Linked DNA regions of Homo sapiens. The protein of the gene in region 1 purifies or fractionates together with the protein of each later gene. This does not show direct contact. Each region holds a gene or a part of one and is shown on either strand. Other genes may lie near its edges.

Region 1 (3,384 bases):
CAATATCAGGGATAAGTGCTAAGGAGAGAAGGTAAAACAGGGAAGGAAGATAAGAATATGTATGTGGGAATGGGATGCTGCGTTCAATTTTAAATAAGGTGGTCAAGAAGACTGCACTGCAAAGATGAGATTTGAGGAAAGACCTGTAGGAGGTGAGGGAGTAAGCCATACACTTGTCCCAGGGAAGAGTAGCCCAGCAAGAGAACAACAGGTGCAGAAGTCCTGAGGCCAAAGCAGGCTGAGCTTGTTCTCAGGTCAGTGTGGCAAGGGGCAAAGGGGATCAGTGCAGCTGGAGCAGAGTGAGAGAGGGAGACGATAAGAGAGCGGACAGGTCTTGGCAAGCCTTGCAAGTCACAGTGAAGACTGGTTTTGACCTTGAGTAAAACAGAAAGCCATAGGAGGTTTGGCACAGAGCAGGGACAGGATCTGATTTACATGTGAAGGGGCAGACCTACTCCTTAAAGAGTACCAATTTACACCCATCTCCACTCCTGACCCTTAGCAAGTGCTCATTAAATATATGTGACTGGCTGAAAGCATGATTCTCAGAGAGAAAAGCAGATAACTAGAGGATATTGAACCATCAGAGGTAGCTCATTGTGAGCCAGGGGCCTGTTTTCAGGAGCCCAGGCTGCTGGAAGAATAAACACCAGGGCTAACACCATTGCCTGGCTCTCTTTCAGTTGCTTGGTGAAGACCGATTTCAAGACATTGAAAAGATTAAGACCATTGGCAGCACCTACATGGCCGTGTCAGGCCTGTCACCTGAAAAACAGGTAAAGGACTCTTTGGACTCAGCCACAATGCATGGTGGGGTCTTGCTGTTGTCATGTCACCGACGGTGGTGAAGCCTCTGTCACCAAGATCCTTGGGGAAAGATGGGGAGAAAATCTAATGGACTGGATTATAATAGTTACGTGATGTGGATTTGCCCCCAAGGTAGGTAGAGTCTACCAGATGAAGCCACGCTGCTTTTTTGAGAAACTTCTAGGCTTTGTTCTGAACCTCATTGTTCCCTTGAACAAAATCAAGAGCCCAGAAATAGCCTATTGTGATTTAGTTGTGGATCTTACTAAACCCCTAATACTAGCCTCTTTTTTCCTATTTTGGTTTTGTCTTTCAAAAGTCTTACATCATAATAATAACAGTTGCTGCTTTTTGGAGTGTTGACTGTGTTCCAGGCACTGGTGTTAAATGGCAACACTGTCTACCTTCCAGGGTTAATGGATGAATTATCTCAGATAATGTCATGCTCCCCAAGCAAAGCCTTGCATCTAGTAAAGTCCTCAATTAGTGTTAAAAGAATATGAGTCCAAGATACTTGGGGAAATGGAATTCTCATCAATTTCTTCCAATCCTTCGTATGCTTTTTTCCAACTAAAAACAATAAAATACTTCAAGAGTGACTATCTGGGATGAAACTCATGCTGGTTATTATTTGGTACGTGTGCAGCAGGGATCAGAAAACTACAGCTCACAGGTCAAATCTGGCCCACCATCTGTTTTTATAAATAAAACTTTATTGGAAAACAGCCATGCCCATTCATTTATATTTTGCCTATTGCTCCTTTCAAGCTAAAATGGCAATGTTGAGTGTCACAACAAAGACCATATGGTCGACAAACCTTAAAATATTGGCTATCTAGCCTTTATTGAAACTGTTTGCTAACCTCTGTTCTACAGGGGCACAAAGTTCTCTCATATAAAAAATCTCATTCAATACCTACGAGGTAGGAAGGGCAAGTATGCTTATCCCCATTTTATAGATTTGGAAACTGAGGTTCAGAGAGGCCCAGAGGCTTATGCAGCACTTCCCTTAGGAGTTTTGTAAGCAAATGTATCCCTTAAACACACACTGTGAGCAATTCAAAGGAAATAGACACAGTTCTTAGACTGGAAAACTACACATACATAAGAGCACATATACACACACATACCCATACCCACACATATACCCATACCCACACACATACCCATACCCACATACACTCACGGCCACCCACACGCCCACACACCCCCAACACACACACACATACACACATACACTCATTCACACACATGCCAGTGAACATACACTACGGAATTGATGCTACATCAACCTGAACAGACAGGTGTAGATGTGGAAGAAGGAATACAATGACCCACATATACTACACTCTTGCAAGCAAATCTTATGTCTTCCCATGTTCTGAGATACCAGTGACTTGAGTGTAGAGGGGCTCACCCACATGATTATTTCCTTAAAGGGATGTGCAGGTAGGGTTGGGTTAGGACGTAAAGCCCCTGCTGCAGAAATGTTAATGTTCCCCCACATTCCGCATTAAATGATTTCTTCTCCTCATGTTTGCTTCAGCAATGTGAAGACAAGTGGGGACATTTGTGTGCTCTGGCTGACTTCTCACTCGCCCTGACAGAAAGCATACAGGAGATCAACAAGCATTCATTCAACAATTTTGAACTCCGGATTGGTGAGTAGCAGCTGCAGGTGGGGCCTGATAGAGCCAGCTGACCTTGCTCCAACAGACCCTCCCCTGCCTTGGGCATCAATCCAGGAAAGCTTTTTCCTGCAAAATGCAATAGATCTAGCATGACCCTGCCAAGGATAGGGACAAGGTCAGCTCAGGCCTTTCTTAGTTTCCTCTCAGTCAAGATGCTGGAAACAAGAGTAGGATACTGGCTTGTGTGCAGAAATACAAAGCAGCCAGCCTTTGGCAAATGCTAGACTATTGTGAACCCCTCTTCCAACTTGCCTGCCCATGCAAGGTCGTGCATAGAGATGTAGCTGACTAATCAGTCATTTAATTCTGACTCCTGGGTAGCTCAATGCTGGTGGTCAATGTATTGCTCTCAAGGTCTTCAGGATAATTCCTTCAGACAAAAGCAGGATTCTACTCCTGAGGATGGCAGATACTATACTTCCAGGGACAGGCTTTACTCAGCCACAAAGCTCGCCATTTCTTTGGGCTTAAAGACATCACCGCACAAAGCAACAACGTAACATTAATCACTGCAATCAATAATAATCCTTTATATTTGCCATTCCTTCCACATCTCTACTGAGCCTCAGTGACCTCCTAAAATGCAGTCTGAATATCCCTGGTCTAGTCCACATTCTCATTTTGTAGATGAGTAAATGCGGGCCTATGAAAAGGGAGTAACTAGCCTAAGATCACACAGTCACACCAGCAGCAGCTCCAGCATTTCCTAACTCTGAGACAATGACATTCTGGCTGCCAGAGTGCAGTTTAAAATAACTTTTGCTACGGTCCTCACACTGTAGACATCTTCTGGCTGATATGCCATTTTACTTTATCTGCTTCTCCCTTAGCAGCTTTCAAGAAAAACAGGTCAAGAAATACCAATATCTGACTTGTCAGATCTAAG
Region 2 (3,830 bases), on another chromosome or scaffold:
ATGGCCTCTGAAAGATTTTTTTCCACCATCCTACTTAGTGTGGCTAAAATTGGCAGTGGGGAATATGTCTTCCCTTCCACTTCAGAGATTTTCATCACAATTCCTGTGCCCAGAAGTTTGTAGTCCGTTGCACATTGTGAGCCACAAACAGCCAAAGGCTGTTTAAAGTCTGAGCTGATGATTCCTTTAGCAATACTTATAGTGGCTTACAGTTCCATGGGACAGTGACTGCTCTCTGAATTCTTTGTGGAATATGGAGAACTCCTTTTTAAAGAGAAAACAATTATGCAGATTCCCCTCCCATGTGACGATAATTGTAATTGTGGGGTGTTTTGATTGGAAAATTACATAGTAACCAAAAGCTATTATGAATTTTAAATTTTTTTAATTGTATATATTTGATTTTTCACAATAGCATGTACAAACATTTGAAAAATAGTAGCAGTATACAGATGCTTATGCTATTTTTTTTGTTGTTCAGTCTTTGTGTGTGGTGTGGAATTCCTAGACCACATGTTCCAACACCTCCGCCACTACCACCCCAACCCCATCCCAAGACCCACAGGGCAGGACCCGTCAGTATAAACCATGACTCAGTTCCCCTACTTTACCAACATTTGGCATCACTTTAGTTATTTTAGAGCATAATTTTGAAGAGTTGTTTATTTTGTCAGACCAAATTTTGAGGCTGCCTGAACGGCCTTTATTTTGTCGTTAGAACATTTGGAAACATATACCTGCTGTAGGCTGGTTTCAGAAACTGGCTTGTAAAACCTGAATTTGAGTAGCAGGTAAACAGGAAAATGTATAAACAATCATTTTCTAAAAGACCAGTACTGATTAGAAGGGTGGGAAGTGCAGCTTCCTTCTAAAGCTGACTTTGAGCCTCAGTAATGAATATTTTGTTTTGTTTTAGGTACACACTTTTCATTGTGCTGTACCCAATGGGAGTGTCAGGAGAACTGCTCACAATATATGCAGCTCTGCCCTTTGTCAGACAAGCTGGCCTATATTCCATCAGTTTACCCAACAAATACAATTTCTCTTTTGACTACTATGCATTCCTGATTCTAATAATGATCTCCTACATTCCAAGTAAGTAAACAGTTATGCGTATATTTAATTATGTTTTAAAATTTGGCTCTACAATAACTAAATATCTTTGACTGTCTTTGCACTATATCCAAGTAAATGTAAATCTCATTTATTGGGAATTCTTGGTTTTTATTGAATGCTGACTATCAAAAGGAATTTTTTTCCAGTAGTAATTGAATAAAGATGAACCCTTCTCAATACAGTTGCCAAAATGCAGCCCTTCTCAGCATGTGGGTTTGAAACTGAATACCAGGCTAGGTTAAGTATGTATTGGGGAAAGTACTGAATGGAAAACAAAAAAGCCATTAAAGGCCTTACCTTGATTGTAGTTTTCTGTGTCTTAAGAACTGCTTGTTACAGTATTTGAAAAACATGATAAAAAGATTTTTGCATTGGTTACTATATCAAAATAGACATTTAACTTCATTTTGAAGGGATTGGTAGTTAACTAGAAACATAACAAAATAATAATAGATTTATTTTTTTCTAAATTTTTCATTTTCTTGTTGAGCACTGATTGGGACACAGTGTTCTCTTCAAGATGGTTTCCAATTATTTTAATAGTACTGCTGAAGATTTAAGTATATGGATAATCAAATGTGCCTATCAGTGTATTCAGTGACAGAGAAAAAGACATGTTTGATGTCTCTGTGAAGTGAGCCCTACTTTCTGAGGATGAGGAGTTTAGTCCTTTGCTGGAATTCTGATGTTCAATTATAAATCCTATGATTGATTTCTATATACCAAAAGATCTTCTTATAACCAACGACATACAGTGTTAGTGGTTCTTCTCATTTTGCTATTTCTATAACCACTGTAACTCTGAATCTTATTTTAATCTAGAAAAGATACTGTATTCTTCCCTAAACCCCAGGTTAAATCAGACAGGGTTGGACTTCTCCTCATTGCATGGCATCATCGGAATGAATCACCCTAACAAAGCGACATGCTTGTGTCCCTCTGTGGAAAATTGCATTTCATGCATTGTGAGAAAAAAACTACATCCAGATTTCATGTGAGTGTTTATCTTGCAGAAATTCTTGGATACAGTTCTGCTTCATGATTCATTTTCCACTCTTTATTCATGTTGAGTCCTCTCTAGTGCTGGAATCATAGCGACCAGAGGCCATCTCTCTTCAAATGTAAAAAGTGGTTGATTTTCAAACAGATGATAAATGTGAAATCATCTAAACTACTAAGTAATAAAAATTAACTGGTAGTTTATCACCTTTCTAATTTTGTTTTTTTTTTTTAGAGTTTCATTTTCCAGTCTCTAGAGCAGCAGTTCACAGTTGCAGTTTTACCACACCCGGAGTAACTAACACATATTATCCCAGTGGGCACCACAGGCTTTATTTGAATTCACCATAGTCAAATGAATAGGAGATATGTACCATATTGGGTGACTGGGAAAGGGGCAGGGAGGTTTTTATGAAATCAGATCCATAACAAGCTGCTTCCACACTGACAAAAATCTAGGCGTTCTTACCTGAGAGTTCCTGCAAGACTTCCAACCTCTCTAGGAAGCAGGGCTTCCTTCCAGGAACCACTCCCCAGGGCAGCCTCCATCTGTCTGCATGTTTGTCTCTTTATGCTCTGGTAGCCAACCAGTGCTGAGCTTTGCCTCTTCCTTCTGAGCTCTTGGTGTAGTGGCAGTGCCTGGGTACCACACGCAGCCTCCATGATGATAGCGTTCCTGAGGGAAACCCACTCCTGTGAGCTTTTCATCTTGGTCTTGAAAGAGATAGAGGAAAGAGAAAACACTGACCCCAGAGCCAGCTGTCTTTTAGAGCAGCAGTCCCCACAACCTTTTTGGCATCAGGGACCGGTTTCATGGAAGACAGCTTTTCCCTGGGCGGTGGAGGGGATGGTTTCAGGATGAAACTGTTCTACCTTAGATCATCAGGCATTAGATTCTCATAAGAAACATATAACCTAGATCCCTTGAATGTGCAGTTTACAACAGGGTTCACACTTCTATGAGAATCTAAAGCCACTGCTGGTCTGACAGGAGGCAGAGCTCAGGCAGTAATGCTCATTTGCCCACCACTCACCTCCTGCTGTGCAGCTCTGTTCCAACAGGTGGCGGTTGGGGACCCCTCTTTCAGAGAGTAGGGAAGGACTCTCCTCCCAACAGAAGTCTGCTTTCTTTACCTTAAGTAATTCCCCCTTGCAGTCTCAGCCTCCTTTTGGTAAGAGAACTTGGCTCAGTTAAAGTCTAACATAATTTCTTTTTCTAAGGCAGCTAACCTCTTGTAGACCGGAGAAAAGGGTGGATCTCAAATAATGATTAAAAGATTCCCTGCAAACCATTGACTCCTCACCCAGGTTCAAGATGGCACACAGACTACCTCTCCTGATGCGAGTCACCCTGGTGCCTGCTGGCCTCACTGTGCTGTGGCCTGAGCCAGCAGCTCTGGATGTTCTCAGTGGTTCAGGTTGTTACTGTTGAGGCCAGAGTGTACAGTTCATTCTGGCCAGCTGCACATTTCCAACTTTCCAAAGCTTTGTATTTATCAGAAGAAAATGCAGAATTAGGAGAGGTTGCTGTTGACATGCAGTCTCCTTTACCAAATTTGGTTTTCTTTCTAAACAAGGTAGCGTTCTTTTAATCTTTAGTGGCAAGTTGATGATACACATGTATTATATAAAGTAACACCTCCTTTTCATGGGCCTCATCTGTTGTTGCGTTGTTGCACACATAGCCTAAATTGTGGCTCATGAGGCTTGACCCC

What was found.
Region 2: the proteins of ADCY8 (region 1) and HACD2 purify together in Homo sapiens (affinity purification with mass spectrometry; one large-scale study listed by BioGRID and IntAct). This does not show direct contact.

The regions. Positions count from the first base shown.
Region 1 is NC_000008.11:130,782,775-130,786,158, reverse strand, and holds part of ADCY8 (adenylate cyclase type 8), read left to right. Parts: intron 1-683; coding exon 684-776; intron 777-2,353; coding exon 2,354-2,468; intron 2,469-3,384.
Region 2 is NC_000003.12:123,497,780-123,501,609, reverse strand, and holds part of HACD2 (very-long-chain (3R)-3-hydroxyacyl-CoA dehydratase 2), read left to right. Parts: intron 1-916; coding exon 917-1,095; intron 1,096-1,969; coding exon of another isoform or gene 1,970-1,974; exon of another isoform or gene 1,975-3,830. UniProt on the Homo sapiens protein: Catalyzes the third of the very long-chain fatty acids (VLCFA) elongation four-step cycle (condensation, reduction, dehydration, and reduction).